2 separate regions of the Homo sapiens genome follow, and region 2 is linked to region 1. A link means that fine-mapping ties the variant in region 1 to the expression of a gene that starts in the linked region. Tissue or cell type: esophagus muscle. Region 1 holds a variant in brackets; the other region holds the start of a gene. All regions are shown on one strand. Distances are from middle to middle.

Region 1 (8,349 bases):
AGCACACTTTTAGGGGATGACAACAGCCTGTGTGGCTAAAACATAGGACAAGTGGGAGATGGGGAGGACGGATAATCAGAGAAAAGGCTGGATTGCCCTTTTTTAAAAAAAAGAAATTGTAATTTGAGTTTTCTAGAAAATCAACCTGTTAATCAGTCATTAGGTAGCCAGACACTGGGGTGATGGAGAAGTCCTGAAGGAAATCGTGAACTCTTTGGGAAAATAATCTTCAATGCAGGAAACTGTTGACATTAATCTCATTACAGAATGCAGGGCTCTGAATCACTGGGTGGTCCCAGGAAGAGAAAGGGAAAGTGAGTTCAAACTGAAGAGCCGGACTCTAATCCTCCAGTTGGTGTTTCCCAGGCAAGCTGGGTAAACAATGTGGGGAAAATGACTTCCATATTCTCGTTCACAACAGTCCAGACTGAAGCGGTAACTGAGCCTGAAAGTATGGGAAGGAACGATGGTGCTTCCAGTCACCCTCCAAAGCACACATGTACACAGCATAGAACTCACAGTCCCCAGAACGGAACTCACTGTCCTTAGAGACTCACCACAAGAAAAGCAAAGCCAATTATTTGCAGAAAAATTGATTGTGACCAGGACCCAAGCGATAAAAGTCCCACTGTGAGAAGCATCTTTACAGGTGTGGGTTTCACCGGGGTTTCCTTCAGCCCAACCCAGCAAAAGCCACTGAAGTTCCTTTCCACGTTCTGAAGACTCTTACTATGCAGGACGATGAGAGCTTGCTTTTCAAAGAGATGTGTGGGAGACAAGAATATGGAAAAAGTGAATCTGACATTTCCATCTTTTTTTCTAACTTTTGGCATGACTGCTTCCAAATTTTACACTTTATTTATAAATGTTTCTCCTAGTGCTCGGAAAACTGCGATCAAAATTACTGTGAGATTTTCAGAGTTGAGGGTGCAGCACCTGCCCTTCACAACTCTTTCTCTTTCCACAGTAGGCGCCATATGCAGGCGGGGCCACAGTCATAAAGGAGAACGTCTCCTCAGTCCCCCAGCAGCACCAGCCAACAATGGTGGCTTTCCTTCAGTCACAAAATGTACCTATTCATTAGATGTTGACTGTCAAAATCTCCCAGGGACCCCAAAGGATGGCACCTCCCTCTGGGCTTTCCCACCATCAGTTGTGTCAATAAGAAGAGCCAAAACATATTTCTGTTTCAAAAAATGGAGGGGCCCTAATTCTGTTGCCGTATTTGCTACTAACTTTTCATCCTAGATAGTTCCCTGGGTGCTTAACTAGGCATGGTAGGTCCCAGAAGAAAAAGAAAAGTCCGTCGATGTAACCATTTCTGCAGGTCATCAAACCATTCATGTTATGTATTTTTAAAAGATGCTGAGGCTGGGCACAGTGGCTCACATCTGTAATCCCAGCACTTTGGGAGGCCAAGATGGGTGGATCACCTGAGGTCAGGATTTCCAGACCAGCCTGGCCAACATGGCGAAACCCCATCTCTACTAAAAATACAAAAATTAGCCAGGTATGGTGGCGCGTGCCTGTAATTCCAACTACTCAGGAGGTTGAGACAGGAGAATCACTTGAACCCAGGAGGCAGAGGTTGCAGTGAGCCGAGATCACGCCATTGCACTCCAGCCTGGGTGACAAGAGCGAAACTCCATCTCAAAAAAAAAAAAAAAGAAAGAACAGTAAGTACATTAAGTTTCTTACAAAAATTTGAAAAGTCCGTTTGTCGGGAAAAAAAAAAGTTTAGAAAATACATACTAGCAATGAATATACATCACATATATATTCTATGATATATAGAACATTATAGTAATATTCTATTTTGGCTATTTTATAAGGAAATGTATATATTCAGAAATTAGTTATTTAGTACCTACTATATGCCTAGCACTAGGCTGGGCACAGCGTAAATGCCCTTTTTCAATTAAAAAAATCAGTGAGTTCACTTTGGAGGTTTATAAAGGCAGGAGAGGGATGCTGAAAGAGTGGTGGCCTCTACAGCTGCCCTGGGAACACTGGGTGAACTCTGGCACTGTGGTGGCTTTCAGAGAGGGAGCCCCCAGCTGGAAGCCTGAAAACCAGGATCTGTCCCTAGGTCCCCACCGAGCCGCTAAGTTACAGAGCAAATTTCGACCTCTCTGTGCTTCGGTTTCCCAAAGTCTGCCCCATAATCACCTCCTTTCAGTAAAATGACAAAAGAACTGACAATGCGGAAAAGTCTTAAAATTAAAGATGCTGATGATAAATGAAGCCAAGTTATTTTAAAACTTTTTATTGAAAAATTACATAAATAGGGAAGTGTGCACATAAGCCTAGCACCACCCAGATCAAGAATGGACCATCACCAAGCCCCCCGCTGGCCCCTGGAAGTCATTACCATCCCCTCTGGGAAACTGCTACTCTTGCTTCCAACAGCACAGACGACTTTTGCTAATTTTGTGCTTTGCATTAATGGGAGCCGGCAGGATATACACTTTCACGTCTGGCTTCTTTTGCTCAGCGTCATATTATGAGATCCAACCATATTGTTGGCTATAGTCATAGGCTGTTCATTATCAGTGCTATACAACATTCATTCCCTATGTGAATGGATCACAATTTATGCATCCATTCTCGTGTCGAGGCATTTGAGTGGTTTCATATATAGCCCTTGATCTACAGAAAAGATCAGAAATTCTCTTATGCAGAAGAGTGATCCACAAATGAAATTCACCATCTCTTTCCTACTTTAAGTTGGTCTGATCAAAGGAATTTTTTTGTTTGTTTTCCTTCCGTGTCAGAACGACAGCTGCTCTGACTGTAAATTAAGTATCAATACTTTTGACCAGGAGTTACAGAAAGGAGGAGGGGGTTACTATATTGACAACTGACTCGAGGGAGTTTTCTTTCTACTTCCAAAGGAAACTAACCTGGCTTTGGACGGTGATTGTTCCTCAAGGAAGGGACTGTCTTGGGTTTCTTTCTGGTTCTGTAACAGTGTCCCACATCCAGGGGTGCTAATCAACGTGTGGTGCTGGTGGACAGAGCAGATGGCACGTGGGAGGGGAAAGAGCACCCAAACAGGATGCAAAAAGAGGCACTTGAAATTACCACTTTAGAAAATAAAGTGATGTTTATGCACAGAATAACACAATTTCTTGTTCACACATCCCACCTATGACATTAATCAGAGCCTTCACCTATGGGCTGAATGTCATGTTTTCCACTCCTAGTAGTTTACAGATTTTTTACTTTGAAGTGGAAGACACAAAAAAAAAAAAAAAAAAAAAAAAAAAAAAAGACATAGCTGCCCTAAAAGGAATGAGGAAGCGAGAGCTCTCCAGTGTCTGGCTGGCTCCGTCCGTGTGACAGCCCATGATGTTCTTTCCGGTCTCTGTAATATTCTGAATTTCCACCTGCCCGCCCCTTCGCTTATAATGCAGAGCATGTGAAGGGAGACCGGCTCGGTCTCTCTCTCTCCCAGTGGACTAGAAGGAGCAGAGAGTTATGCTGTTTCTCCCATTCTTTACAGCTCACCGGATGTAAAAGAACTCTGGCTAGAGACCCTCCAAGGGTAAGTACACTATATATTAACATGCCTAGAAATTACAAGCTGCCTCGCAAGTCACAGGTCACTCAGATCACAGGCAACAGAAAACAGCTATCCCGTGGAATATGCTCTCACTTTATAAAGTCTCAGGACAAAGCTTTGCTTCAACGTGAAGGCTGCACCTTTTTGGTGTAGGAGTTCTGTAAATGTTATCTTTGTTTCATGTTTACTATTTTAGCATCCTAGGGATATGTTTTTTTTTTTTTCCTTTTTGGATTAGATGAGAAAATCCATGCAAAGCACCTACTAC[G/A]ACAGCTGGCATATAGTCAGCACTCCACCAAAAAAGTTAATGTTCATGTTAATTTAAAATGTTAACGTAATTGATATCCAGATTATCTCTTGATGGAACGGAATAAATTGGTAACAACGTTTAGAGTGGTAAAGATAGTTGACTTAAATAATTTAGAAATAATTGTGTTCAGATGCTGCTCTTAACAACATACAACATCTGGTAACAGAACTGATTTTAAATGAAAACTTGTCTATGTAATAGTTTTTTCCAAAGTAAAGGCAAGTGAAAAAATAGCAAAAGAGAAAAATAAATAAATAGTTTCAAACTCTGTGCTTTGGCAAAGTGGCGCTGAAAGTGGCCTACTGTGTGAGTCCCTCCTAACTCCTTTCCATGTGATTCGTTGTAGACAGAGGCACAGCCACACGGGAGTGAAATCCACCCCTGGACAGTCAGCCGCAATACTGATGAAGCTGAGAAGCAGCCACAATGCTGTGAGTGCCCCTCTCACATTCATTCATTCACGTTTCCTACAGGCAAGGGCCAAAAGATATTTACCTAATTTTATTTTTTCTCTTTTAGTCAAAAACACTAAACGCCAATAATATGGAGACACTAATCGAATGTCAATCAGAGGTAAGAAAGCAATTTTTAAGACTTTTTATCTGTACTGTGAGAAGGTGGAAAACTTTGTTTTAATTGAATATTATTTGGGTTGAATAGTAATTATAAGAGTAGTAAACTAACATCACACATGTAGTAAATTAAGCACATTAATTAGGATCTTATATGATGACAATCAAGACCTTAATATTGCTTCTAGAAGCTAGAAAAAACATCAATGCACTCTACTGACTTCATTTTTAATATGAATAAAATGCTGTATGTGTGTTTTGTGGGGAAAGACTCGATAGGTTTCTTCAGTCACTATATTTAACTGAAATAAAAATGTTTTTAGGGTGATATCAAGGAACATCCCCTGTTGGCATCATGTGAGAGTGAAGACAGTATTTGCCAGCTCATTGGTGAGTTTTAAAAACATACCGATCTTTTATGTAAGTGCTAACAACCAGTGCTCTTGGTTTGCAAAACCACAGCGCTTTTACTCTACTAGGAATTTTTTTGTATAAGTTGTTCTGTTAAAGACCGCAGAACATTAACCCTTAAATGGCAGGTATGCTCCAACTCACTAGAGCAGGGAGTGCTGGGAAAGGAAAGAGCCTCTCCATAGAGAATCCCCAGTTCTGCCAAGCGTTTTTAATGCGGTTCAATCTCCTGGCCATGTATGTTTCGACAATTAGCATGCACACATTTGAAAAACACACAGTGTCTTTTCCATTTTCTTCCTTCTCTTATGGAGAATGCATCCAAGAGCCTATGAAGCAACTGTTGCTGATCTCAAATCCCAAAGGACCCACCATTCACTCTCAACTTTTTTCATAATGCATTTCATTATAGCGTAACCCTGACCCAGTTCTCCTGAACCATAAAGACAGGCCACTTCTTTCTCATCATGCTTCCACTTGCCAATCTGAAATGTATAGAAACAGATGCCAATGCATTTAGAAAATATAGCCTTTATAATTAGTAAGAAAGGAGAAGGAAGGAAGGAAGGAAAAGAAAAGAAAGAAGGAAATGTTTGAGATTGCAATATCCATTGCACACACATCTTGTGGATTTCAGAAGGACAGAATATCTTGATAACGTTTTGCTGATAATTCCCAGTTGCCAGATCTAGGTTCAAGGCTTCCCGCAGCGATTCGTATTTGCCTCTGTCCTAAAGCAGCAACCTGGAAAACCCAAGGTGACCAGTCACCTGGAAGGAAAAATGGTGTTAGCTCCCTCTAGTGGCTGTTTAGTGCCTGCGTGGCTGCAAAGGGTTGGAGCCAGCCCTGCTATGTGCCTTCGAAAAGATATTCAGCAAGTCACTTCCTCACCTTTTAAGTTTCGTTTTCTTCGCCAGTTAAAGGAGGAAATCAAAATAATCTATTTCATATCAGAAATTTCCTCTATAGTTATTCAGGCCAGTAGGTTAAGATGGTTGTTTATGATCAGCACAGTTAGGTTTTGCTAATTTTCTGTAGCAAACAGCTGGAAAGAGTGAAAACAGGAAAGGTGGAGGCCTTGAGGAACTCTGGTGTTGCTGTTTAGGGAACTGGTTGCCCTGGTAACAGTGTGGTTGTTTATCGGTTGGTTTTTCTAGATTAAGATTCACGCCCTTTGCTTTCTCAAGTTTTCAAAATTATTTTTCTCACATCGCATACTATTGACCACATTATGCGGCCAACGATACCCATTTTCTTACCTGGATCTTTGCTTCTTAACACTGTAGTCTAATTTTTCTCGTTGCCTTGTTTTCTTGGCTGTAGAAGTTAAGAAGAGAAAGAAGGTGCTGTCCTGGCCCTTTCTCATGAGAAGGCTCTCCCCTGCATCAGATTTTTCTGGGGCTTTGGAGACAGACTTGAAAGCATCGCTATTTGATCAGCCCTTGTCAATTATCTGCGGTGACAGTGACACACTCCCCAGACCCATCCAGGTAGGCGTGCATTCTCTCATAAACCTACTTCAGTTTTCAGTTGGACATGCAAAATACTCGGGAAATCTGAATGTCATTCTCCTATTAAGTTTGTAGGGACTGATCTTCCATATTTTCCACTCTTCAACATGGCACTCCCACATACGCGTGCAGTCAGAAGAATATCTGACTGCTTCCATTCCAGAAATTGAAATTAGTTGTATTTGCCAATGAGCTCAGAGCTATGGTCCCGCCATTCCTCTGACTTCACAGAGTGGAGAATGCTGAAGATTTGTAGCTTCTGAAAAGTCAAAAGGGGGAAACAGAATATAGACTTTGTGATCTGAAATCCAATGTTCATATGGAAGTATTTGAAAGGAGAGAGCTCCAAAGTGATTTTAGAAAGTGCAAAATTAGAGCTTTCACAATTTGCCTCCTCTTAGAAAAATAGCAGGGTTGAGGAAGGCCATTGACAGCAACTGGACTGAAAGCAAAATCTGACATCAATATTCCTGTTAAGACTATCTCAGTATACTAAAGAAGAAGGGTAACCCTTTCCTGTTCCTATTGCTGTTTCCTTTAGGACATTCTCACTATTCTATGCCTTAAAGGCCCTTCAACGGAAGGGATATTCAGGAGAGCAGCCAACGAGAAAGCCCGTAAGGAGCTGAAGGAGGAGCTCAACTCTGGGGATGCGGTGGATCTGGAGAGGCTCCCCGTGCACCTCCTCGCTGTGGTCTTTAAGGTGAGTTCAACACACTTGCGCCAAATAACCTGCCAAGGGGCCCTGACACACTCATTCTCAGGATGCAAGAAATAGGCTCTTCTCCCCACACAGCAAGGTACACTGATCTTGGAGTTTAATTTTTTTCATTAAGCCCTTTATTTATTTATTTAGTAAGCACCTCTGTTTCTGTGACCTCAGATTCCAACAGAAAGTGATGCATTCTGCTCTCCCAAAACTTTGCCAAGTACGGGCAATTTGATTGTTCCGTGGCAGAATCCATACGTCAAAATCCAGTGGCCCCTCAGAACACACCCACCTGGGGATGGTGCCTCTGACTCTGCCTGATGTTAGAAAGTTGCAGAGAGGCCAAGGGTGTTGGAGAGAGGGTTCCCTGGATTCATCAAATGCAGGAATGAAGGGCCACAATCTATGATGGGCTAAGCATAGAGCACCCTGCGATGGAACGAAAACCGGGTGAAAACAAGGACATGGGACATCATACAGTACCAATAGGCCAACAGCCCACTCTCATCCCCCAGGACTTCCTCAGAAGTATCCCCCGGAAGCTACTTTCAAGCGACCTCTTTGAGGAGTGGATGGGTGCTCTGGAGATGCAGGACGAGGAGGACAGAATCGAGGCCCTGAAACAGTAAGTCATCAAAGTCATCGGTCATTGCCAGGCCACATCACCTCCGTCTTTTGATTCTTTACACAGCTTTCTAAATGCTTCATGATCCCTGTTCCATGAGAATTGTGATGTTTAGGGAATCCGAGTGGAATTGCTCGTCCACTCCCAGAACAAAAACCAGAGGGTGCCCTGGACTTTTGAATTTTAATTTTAGCCAAATGAAATATTTCTTCAAAAAGTAGAAAGCGAACTTCAATCCTCACAAATCCCAAGAGGTAGGGAAGTCTGAAAATGTAAGATGTTCAAAAAGGTATGAGATAAAATCAGACCTGAGAACTTTAACACAGGCTCACCAGCAAAGTGTAGAAATTCGGGATTATCTTTAAGCTACACTGACTGGTGTCATGCAAGGCAACAGTTCTCCCATAAAACATCCCTCAGGATGCAGCCAGACAGTGTGGTGGGGGGCAGTTGTTTTGTTCATAAAACTTCACAGCATATTTCATCTTCTTATAATTAACCCAAATGAAAACTATATAATAACACATTCCAGTGAGAGTAAAAATAATAACATATGCAATGGAAAGTGTGATCTGTTAGTGACTAGAGAATTCTAAAACCCAAGCTTTGAAATGTCAGCATGGTTGTCACATCCTATGAAAGTTTA
Region 2 (8,000 bases), 45 kb after region 1:
TGAGGTCAGGAGTTCGAGACCAGCCTGATCAACATGGTGAAACCCAGTCTCTACTAAAAAAATACAAAATTGGCCGGGCATGGTGGTGCACACCTGTAATCCCAGCTACCTGGGAGGTGAGACAGGAGAATTGCTTGAACCCGGGAGGTGGAGGCCACAGTGAGCCAAGACAGTGCCATTGTACTCCAGCCTGGGCAACAAGAGCAAAACTCCGCCTCAAAAAAAAAAAAAAAAAAAGTCATCCGTTCCTACTCTAATTGCTTGCCAGAATAAAATTAAATCCTTTCTGGAGAAACACAACATCAGCCACAGTCTCTATGCAATTTATTTATTTATTTTTTATTTATTTATTTAGTTTTTTTTTTTTTGCCAGAGCCTCTATGTGATTTTTTTCCTACACAATGTCTAACATTTAATCAGAAACCTTAGGTTCATCTCTTTTGCCTTTCTTTCTCTCGTGCACCACGTCACGTCCAATCTGTTCTACCTTCAAAATTGAGCTGGGATCTTCCCACCACTTTTGTCCCAGATCCAGAACCAAGCTCCACTGAAAGCAAGGCAGTCTGTCCCCCGACATGGCCTCGGCACTGACTCACTGCATCTCTCGGGCCCGAGCACCACACCTACACCAGATCCAAGCCACCCTCTCACCAGCCTTATTGGGAGCAGCTTCCTATCTGGTCTCTCTGCTTCTGCCTTTGCCCCACTTCAGTCTATTCTCAACCAAACAACTAGAAAAAACAAATTTTTTTAATCAAACTATGTCAAGCTTCTACTCAAAACCCTTTAGGGACTTTTAACCCTAGAGTAAAACCTAAAGTCCTTTCACTGACCTACAACAGGGCGCACGGCCCAGCCTCTGACTTCATCTCCGAATGCTCCTCCTTGTGCTCACTCTGCTCCACTCACTCTTACTGCCATCCCCAACACGACTTCCTGCCTTAGAACGAGGAATTGGCTGCTTCCTTGACCTGGAATGCTGTGACAATTAGTCACAAGTCTCAAGTTTCATTTCTTCACCTCCTTCAAGTCTTTACTCAAATGTCACCTTCTCAATGAAGCCTTCTCTGACCACTATAAAATTGATAGGTCTCCCATGCCCCTAGCACCTAGCCTTATTTCCTGCTTTATTTCGAATTAGCTATTATAATTATGTAACACCCATAATGTACTCACTTTTCTTGTTTGTATGACTCCTCCACTAGAATATAAATTCTGTCAAGGCAGGACTTTTAATCTGTTGTTTGTTTTTGTTTTTCACTGCTATATCCCCACTAACACCAGGGGAGTGGGGACGAGGGACAAGAAAACAACAATGCTTGGCACATACTAGATACACATAACTATTTGTGGAATGAATCTTTCAGTTTCAGATCATCCAAGAGTTGTCCACAAAATAGTCAGATATCCAGGACTGTCACCTGAGGGAGAAGTCTAGGTTAGAGATACATCCTTTGCTACCCTGAGTATATAGGTGGTACTAGAAATTACAGACGTGAAATGGGACTGCCCTGGGAGAAAGTACAAGAAGAGAAACAGGCTGTGGATAAAAACTTGTACAGGCCAGGCACAGTGGCTCACGCCTGTAATCCCAACACTTTGGGAGGCTGAGGAGGGCGGATCACCAGGTCAAGAGAACAAGACCATCCTGGCCAACATGGTGAAACCCCGCCTCTACTAAAAATACAGAAATTAGCTGGACGGGGTGGCACACGCCTGTAGTCCCAGCTACTCAGGAGGCTGAGGCAGGAGAACCACTTGAACCGGGGAGGCGGAGGTTGCAGTGAGCCAAGATCGCGCCACTGCACTCCAGCCTGGCCACAGAGCGAGACTCCATCTAAAAAAAAAAAAAAAGAAAGAAACTTGTACAAGAACCTATAGTGGCTATCAATTTCTTTATAAAGCCCACTGTGGCTGGTATAGCACTATTGTTTACCCACTTAATACCCACTCAATTCTGCCCCAACATCCTCCTAACAGAATTTGTTCTCCTCCTCCCTGGCCAAGTGTTTCTTGGAGGCCTAGAAAGACCGGTTACCTGGTCTAATCCAAATATGGTGGTCTTATATAGATCCTAAGCTTAAATCAATATGATGTAATTCTGGTCAGTTGGGAGTTTACGAGGGGGTTTTGCTCTTCCAATAAAGACAAAAGAGCAGATACTTCTATTACTACTTTGTTGAAGCCAACAACCCAGGTGACAGAGTGGAAAGGTAGGGGAAAAAACGTGTTGTTGATAATGTGCTGAGCCCCCAAGTTACCCTCCAGGTTAACCAACCTGGGGAGTGTAAAATAATGAATTCCTTATTATTTCAGCCACTTGGAATTGGTTTTTTGTTACTTGAGGGAAAAAATATTCTAATTAATATGCTAGTGTTTACTGTTTCCACGATGTGGTGTCAGCCTGTCTATATATATTTCTACAACTCATCTACACAAACCTTGCTTACAGTTTTCCAAATGCACCTTGGGCTTCTTGAGCCTTTGATCAAGCCATTCCGAATGCACTTCCCCCAAGAGGCTGGCCAGTTAAAATACTATCATTTATCAAACACAACTTAAATGTCACTTTCTCCTCTAGCCCTTTCAGAAATTACCTCAAAATTAAATGATCAGACCTAAAATATGTTGGGAGTGTTTTCACCTCTAGAATTTACCATACACCTTTATGCTAGTGTTACTTATAGAATGCCTACATCTGCTTTAGGTCATACACTTCAAAGCACAGAACGGTCCAGATCTTAATATAAAGGCTTGCCATTTACCAGGCACAGCTCTAAGTATTAACGGTTTTAATCCTCAAGACAAAACCTAAAGAGATAAATTCTTCTATTGCCACTTTGTGGATTAGGAAAATGAAGCACAAAAACATTTAACTTGCCTGAGGTTTCGGAGCTAGTACATTCTAGAACCTGGATTCAAATCAAGACAGCAATTAGCTGAATGAAGGTGTAACTGCAAATGCAAATAACTGATCACAAGGGATACACATTCACTCATACAAGATAGAAGATTTTTAACGTTGCTGGTACTAAAACCAAAGCGTCTGCGTTTTTAAGCGCAGCCCCACCCCGCAATACTAGAGACATTCTTTAGAGCTGGAAGCCTGATAGATTAAGGGGAACTATGCCTTTGTATTTTTTAAGACTCAATAAATTGCTCACTTCTTTCCCAAAATGAGGTGTCTGTGGGGGAGGCCCCTGTCGCTCCGTGTGCCAAGGGTCCTCCGATTGCTAGCACACAGCGGTGAGCAGAGAAGGTAGGTGAGGAACTGCACTGACTCAGCTGCAGAGGGCGGCGGCAGCCCGCCCCTGGGGCGGGAGAAGGGCAGGAGCCGGGAGACACCAGGAAGCTCTTCCCCGCCCGGGCACGTAACAGAGCTGGGAGCCTGGCTGCCAGGGGCGTGTTATCGCGGGGGCAGCCTGGGAGCGCTGCTGCGCCGCGGCAGGAGAAACAGCCGAGGACACCCTGGAAGAGCAGGAGCACGTGGGCCTGCGAGAATGGCGCCAACACCAGCCCTGCAAAGCCACATTCCAAAGCCGGGCCAAGGACAGCCACCGTTGCCCCGCAGGCCTCAAGGATGACGGTCAAGCCAGCCAAGGCCGCCTCCCTAGCCAGGAACCTCGCAAAGCGCAGGCGCACCTACCTGGGTGGCGCGGCTGGGCGGAGTCAAGAGCCGGAAGTCCCTTGTGCCGCAGTCCTTCCCGGGAAACCTGGGGACCGGAACTGCCCGGAGTTCCCGCCCCCAGACAGAACCCTGGGTTGCTGGGCAACCGATGCGGCCCCCGCAGCTGGTCTCTGTGGTGCTGGGAGCGAGCCCAGTATAGCTCCCACCTCCTGCGCTGGTAACCTCCCGTCCCGCCCGCCTCCCTTGTTGTCGCCTCTCCTCGCGTCGCGGAATCCTTGCCCTTGGCACTACTTACATCTCTCCGGGTCCCACAACACCTTAGCGCCCACCTGCTTCAAAGCCAAGCTCCACCGAAAGCGAGGCAGTCAGCCCCCGGACATGGCCTCAGCGCTGACTGATCGCACCTCTCGGGCCCCGAGCACCTACACCTACACCAGCCGGCCCCGAGCACTGCCCTGCCAGCGCAGCCGTTACCGGGACAGCCTGACGCAGCCGTGAGTGACCAAGCCAGCCCCTGTGTGGTCCATACTTGCACCCCATCCCCAGGCCGGGGTCTGGCCCCTTCGCCCTGGCAAAAAAGCTGCTTATGCTGTCTTCCCTTGGCTGCACTCTGCCGAAATAAAAGTTCTGCCCTAAGGAATCTCCCGTGGTGTGGAGGAGTGAAGCAGGAAGGGGCATGGGTTGGGCATCAGTTAACTTTTAGTGATATGAGTTGCTGCCGTGGTCCTTAACATGTACACGAATTGGCTCATTTCACAAAGTTTGAATTGTACCAGTGTGTATTGAGGGCCAACTACGTGCTGAGCACCTTACGGGGGGCATTCAAATACGTTTTCTTAGTTAATCCACAGTGCTGTGAAGTTGATTTTATAACTCCATTATGCAGATGAGGAGACCGCGGTGCAAAGATATCCAACAGTAGCATATCCAAAATGGGAGCCGAGTAAATCTCTTCGGCAGGCTTTGAGCAGGAGTAAGATTATTCTTCCATGCAGGACCACAGATTGGTTTTTTGTGGTGGTGGTGGTGGTGGTGGTGGTGGTTGCTGTTGTTGTTTTGAGACGGAGTTTCGCTCTTGTCGCCCAGGCTGGACTGCAATGACGCGATCTCCGCTCACTGCAACCTCCGCCCCCCTCCCCCACTCCTCCCCGATCAAACGATTCTCCTGCCTCAGCCTCCCAAGTAGCTGGGACTAGAGGCGCCCTCCACCACCCCCGGCTAATCTTTGTATTTTTAGTAGAGACAGGGTTTTGCCACGTTGGCCAGGCTGGTCTCAAACTCTTGGCCTCAAGTGATCCGCCCGCCTCGGCCTCCCAAAGTGCTGGGATTACAAGCGTGAGCCACCGCGCCCGGACGGCAGTTTGTGTTTTTACATCCATGAACAGTTGCAAATATTCAAACATACATAGGAAAGAAAAAAAACAAAACATAAGCCTTTTTTTTTTTCTTTTTTTTTTTTTGAGACGGAGTCTCGCTCTGTCGCCCAGGCTGGAGTGCAGTGGCACAATCTCGGCTCACTGCAACCTCCACCTCCCGGGTTCACGCCATTCTCCTGCCTCAGCCTCCCAAGTAGCTGGGACTACAGGCGCCCGCCACCACGCCCGGCTCTTTTTTTTTTTTTTTTTTTTTTTGTATTTTTTTAGTAGAGACGGGGTTTCACCATGTTAGCCAGGATACTCTCGATCTCCTGACCTCATGATCCGCCCGCCTCGGCCTCCCAAAATGCTGGGATTACAGGCCTGAGCCACCACACCCAGCAAAAAAAACATAAACTCTTAAAGTTCTCTTAAAGTTAAACGGTTCTCTAAAGTTCTTTCCATAAGCCTCAAATGTTGAATTCAGCAGAACTTTATAGGAATGCAAGCTCCATGGATGCAGGAACTTTTGCATCTTTTGTTCACCTAGTACAATGCCTGGTACATAGTAAGCACTTAATACGAATTGTCAAACTGATGATTGAACATCAACAATGTAATTATTGATGCTTATTTCAAACGCTCTTTCTAAATTCATAATTATCTTGTTCTAACAAATTCTTTTTCTATAAGAGATGTCTATCACTGTAAGAAAACTAAAATAGAAAATTTAAATTTGAAGAGTGATCATTTATATTAGAAAAGGATTCAATTTTAAAATTTTCTAATCCTTCCAAAAACACTTTCTGGTGCCTTTAAGTGGTTGCTTACAAATCATTACTATCCAATCAGACCAACAGATTAGAAACAAGAATCAATGGTGGTTCATTAGGAACAACTTTTTTGATAGTTGATTAGTATATTGAAGTAATCTATTGATTAGTTTATTAGTATATCTGAGTAATGCACAAGACAGAAAAATCTCAATTTTGAGGAAGTATTATCTTACAAATCATAATCATTGATATCCTAATGGATAAAATACTGATATTTTATCCATAATTTGCTTATGGATAAGGATAATATTCTCCTCTGATATCCTTATGAATAAAATATTTTTTAAGTGTTCAGGAGAGTAGCCGGGCATGGTGGCATGTACCTGTAATCCCAGGTACTTGGGAGGCTGACGCAGGAGGATCACTTAAACCCAGAAGGCGGAGGTTGCAGTGAGCCAAGATCACGCCACTGCACTCCAGCCTGGGCGACAAAGCGAAACTCTGTCTCAAAAAAAAAAAAAAAAAAGTGTTCAGGAGAGTACTTGTCTTAATCCATCTTATGTTGCTCTAACAGAGTATCTGAAACTGGATAGTCTATAAAGAGATCTATTTAGCTCACAGCTCTGCAGACTGAGAAGTACAAGAGCATGGTGCTGGCATCTGCTTGCCTTCTAGTGAGGGCTTTTCTTGTTGTTTCATAACATGATGGAGAAGGTCAAAGGGGAAGCAGATCCGTGGGAAGTGGCCAAACAGGAGGAAGTACCTCATTTTGTAGCAACTTGCTGTCTCTGGAACTAGTCCTGTGAGAACTTAATCCAGTCTCTTGAGAGTAAGAGTTCCCTCACTACTGCGAGAACTGGTGCCAAGCCATTCATGAGGGATCCACCCATGTTCCAAACACCTCCCACTAGGCCCCACTTCCCAACACTGCCATATTGGAAATTAAATTTCCATGTGAGTTTTAGTGGAGACGACAAACCATATCCAGACCACAGCAGTACTTTTAGTACTTGCTGGTGAGTAACTAAATGACCATATCCAAAAAGAGTATGCTTTTGTGTCAATCTGTCTCTATCCTAGAATGTCGTTTAGTTCTTTCATGTTCAAAATTTTATGTTGAACTGGATAAATCTTCAGTTTTTCAGATGACACATGGCTGGAATGGATAACTAACTTATGACTGAAGGGAGTCAAGGTTCTAAATTATCTTGATTGGGTATATATAACTGGGCTGAAACCAAAAAATGAAACTTAATTGGAAAGCTGTGAAGTTTTACTTAGGTATGAGAAGTCAGTTACACAAATACAGAAATGGGAGTATCTGATTTTTCCTTTGAAAGGGTCTAGAAATTTAACACAAGTCTAATGTGAATCAAGAACTTCCACCTTTTCATAGGATTATAAAGCTGAAAGAGAACATTTGAATACTAGTCTTCTCATTTACAAACAAGAGAATGTAATACATCTTTTATGTATTTCTTGGTAGTTGGGTGATCATAAATGCCATTAAATTCACCTTTAGGCATGTGTGAAAAGACAATTGTGATAATGACATTCCCTCATTTTACAAATCCTTTGGTAAAGGATATATAACCCTTCCAATAAAATAACATTTTTAATGCAAATGAATTAAAACCTTAGAACATACCTTTTTTTTATTTTTATTTTTACTCAGGTCAAATAAGGTTTAAAATCACCGTAGAGGGCAGAATAATGATTCCCCAAAGATGTCCTCTTCCTAGTCCCCAGAACCTGTGAACATGTTATGTGGTAAAAGGGACTTTGAGATGTGATTACATTAAGGATCTTGAGATGGGAGATCTTGAGATGGGAAATTAGCCTGGCTTATCCAGGTGGGCCCAGTAGAATCACAGTGGGGCCTTAAAAGTAAAAGAAGAAGGATGGGCACGGTGGCTCACGCCTGTAATCCCGGTACTTTGGGAGGCTAAGGTGGGCGGATCACGAGGTCAGGAGATCCAGACCATCCTGGCTAACACGGTGAAACCCCGTCTCTACTAAAAAAATACAAAAAAAAATGAGCCGGGCGTGGTGGCGGGCGCCTGTAGTCCCAGCTACTCGGGAGGCTGAGGCAGGAGAATGGCATGAACCCAGGAGGCGGAGCTTGCAGTGAGCCAAGATTGCACCTCTGCAGTCCAGCCTGGGTGACAGAGTGAGACTCTGTCTCAAAAAAAATAAAAATAAAATAAAGTGAAAGAAGAAGGCACAGGAGTCTGAGTCATA

The links. PIP is the estimated chance that this variant, and not a neighbour inherited with it, causes the effect.
Region 2: it holds the start of TAGAP-AS1, and the variant in region 1 is fine-mapped to the expression of TAGAP-AS1 in esophagus muscle (GTEx, PIP 0.98). The same link has a PIP of 0.9 or more in tibial nerve.

The regions. Positions count from the first base shown.
Region 1 is chr6:159,040,077-159,048,425 of GRCh38, reverse strand. It overlaps TAGAP (T cell activation RhoGTPase activating protein), which reads left to right and starts at 3,435. Exons shown (of 10, transcript NM_054114.5): 1 at 3,435-3,547; 2 at 4,222-4,306; 3 at 4,395-4,448; 4 at 4,771-4,837; 5 at 6,182-6,348; 6 at 6,911-7,072; 7 at 7,594-7,703. The coding sequence starts at 4,280. TAGAP-AS1 (TAGAP antisense RNA 1) reads right to left here. Exons shown (of 5, transcript NR_183546.1): 4 at 7,371-7,507; 5 at 5,370-6,628. RefSeq lists enhancers at 5,732-6,001, 6,575-7,774. The variant G/A (reference allele first, on the strand shown) is at 3,834.
Region 2 is chr6:158,995,557-159,003,556 of GRCh38, reverse strand. It overlaps TAGAP-AS1 (TAGAP antisense RNA 1), which reads right to left and starts at 3,684. Exons shown (of 5, transcript NR_183546.1): 1 at 3,165-3,684. It overlaps RSPH3 (radial spoke head 3), which reads left to right and starts at 3,355. Exons shown (of 8, transcript NM_031924.8): 1 at 3,355-4,122. The coding sequence starts at 4,007. RefSeq lists enhancers at 3,047-3,096, 2,669-3,640, 3,507-3,666, 3,837-3,906, 3,937-3,986 and 2 more.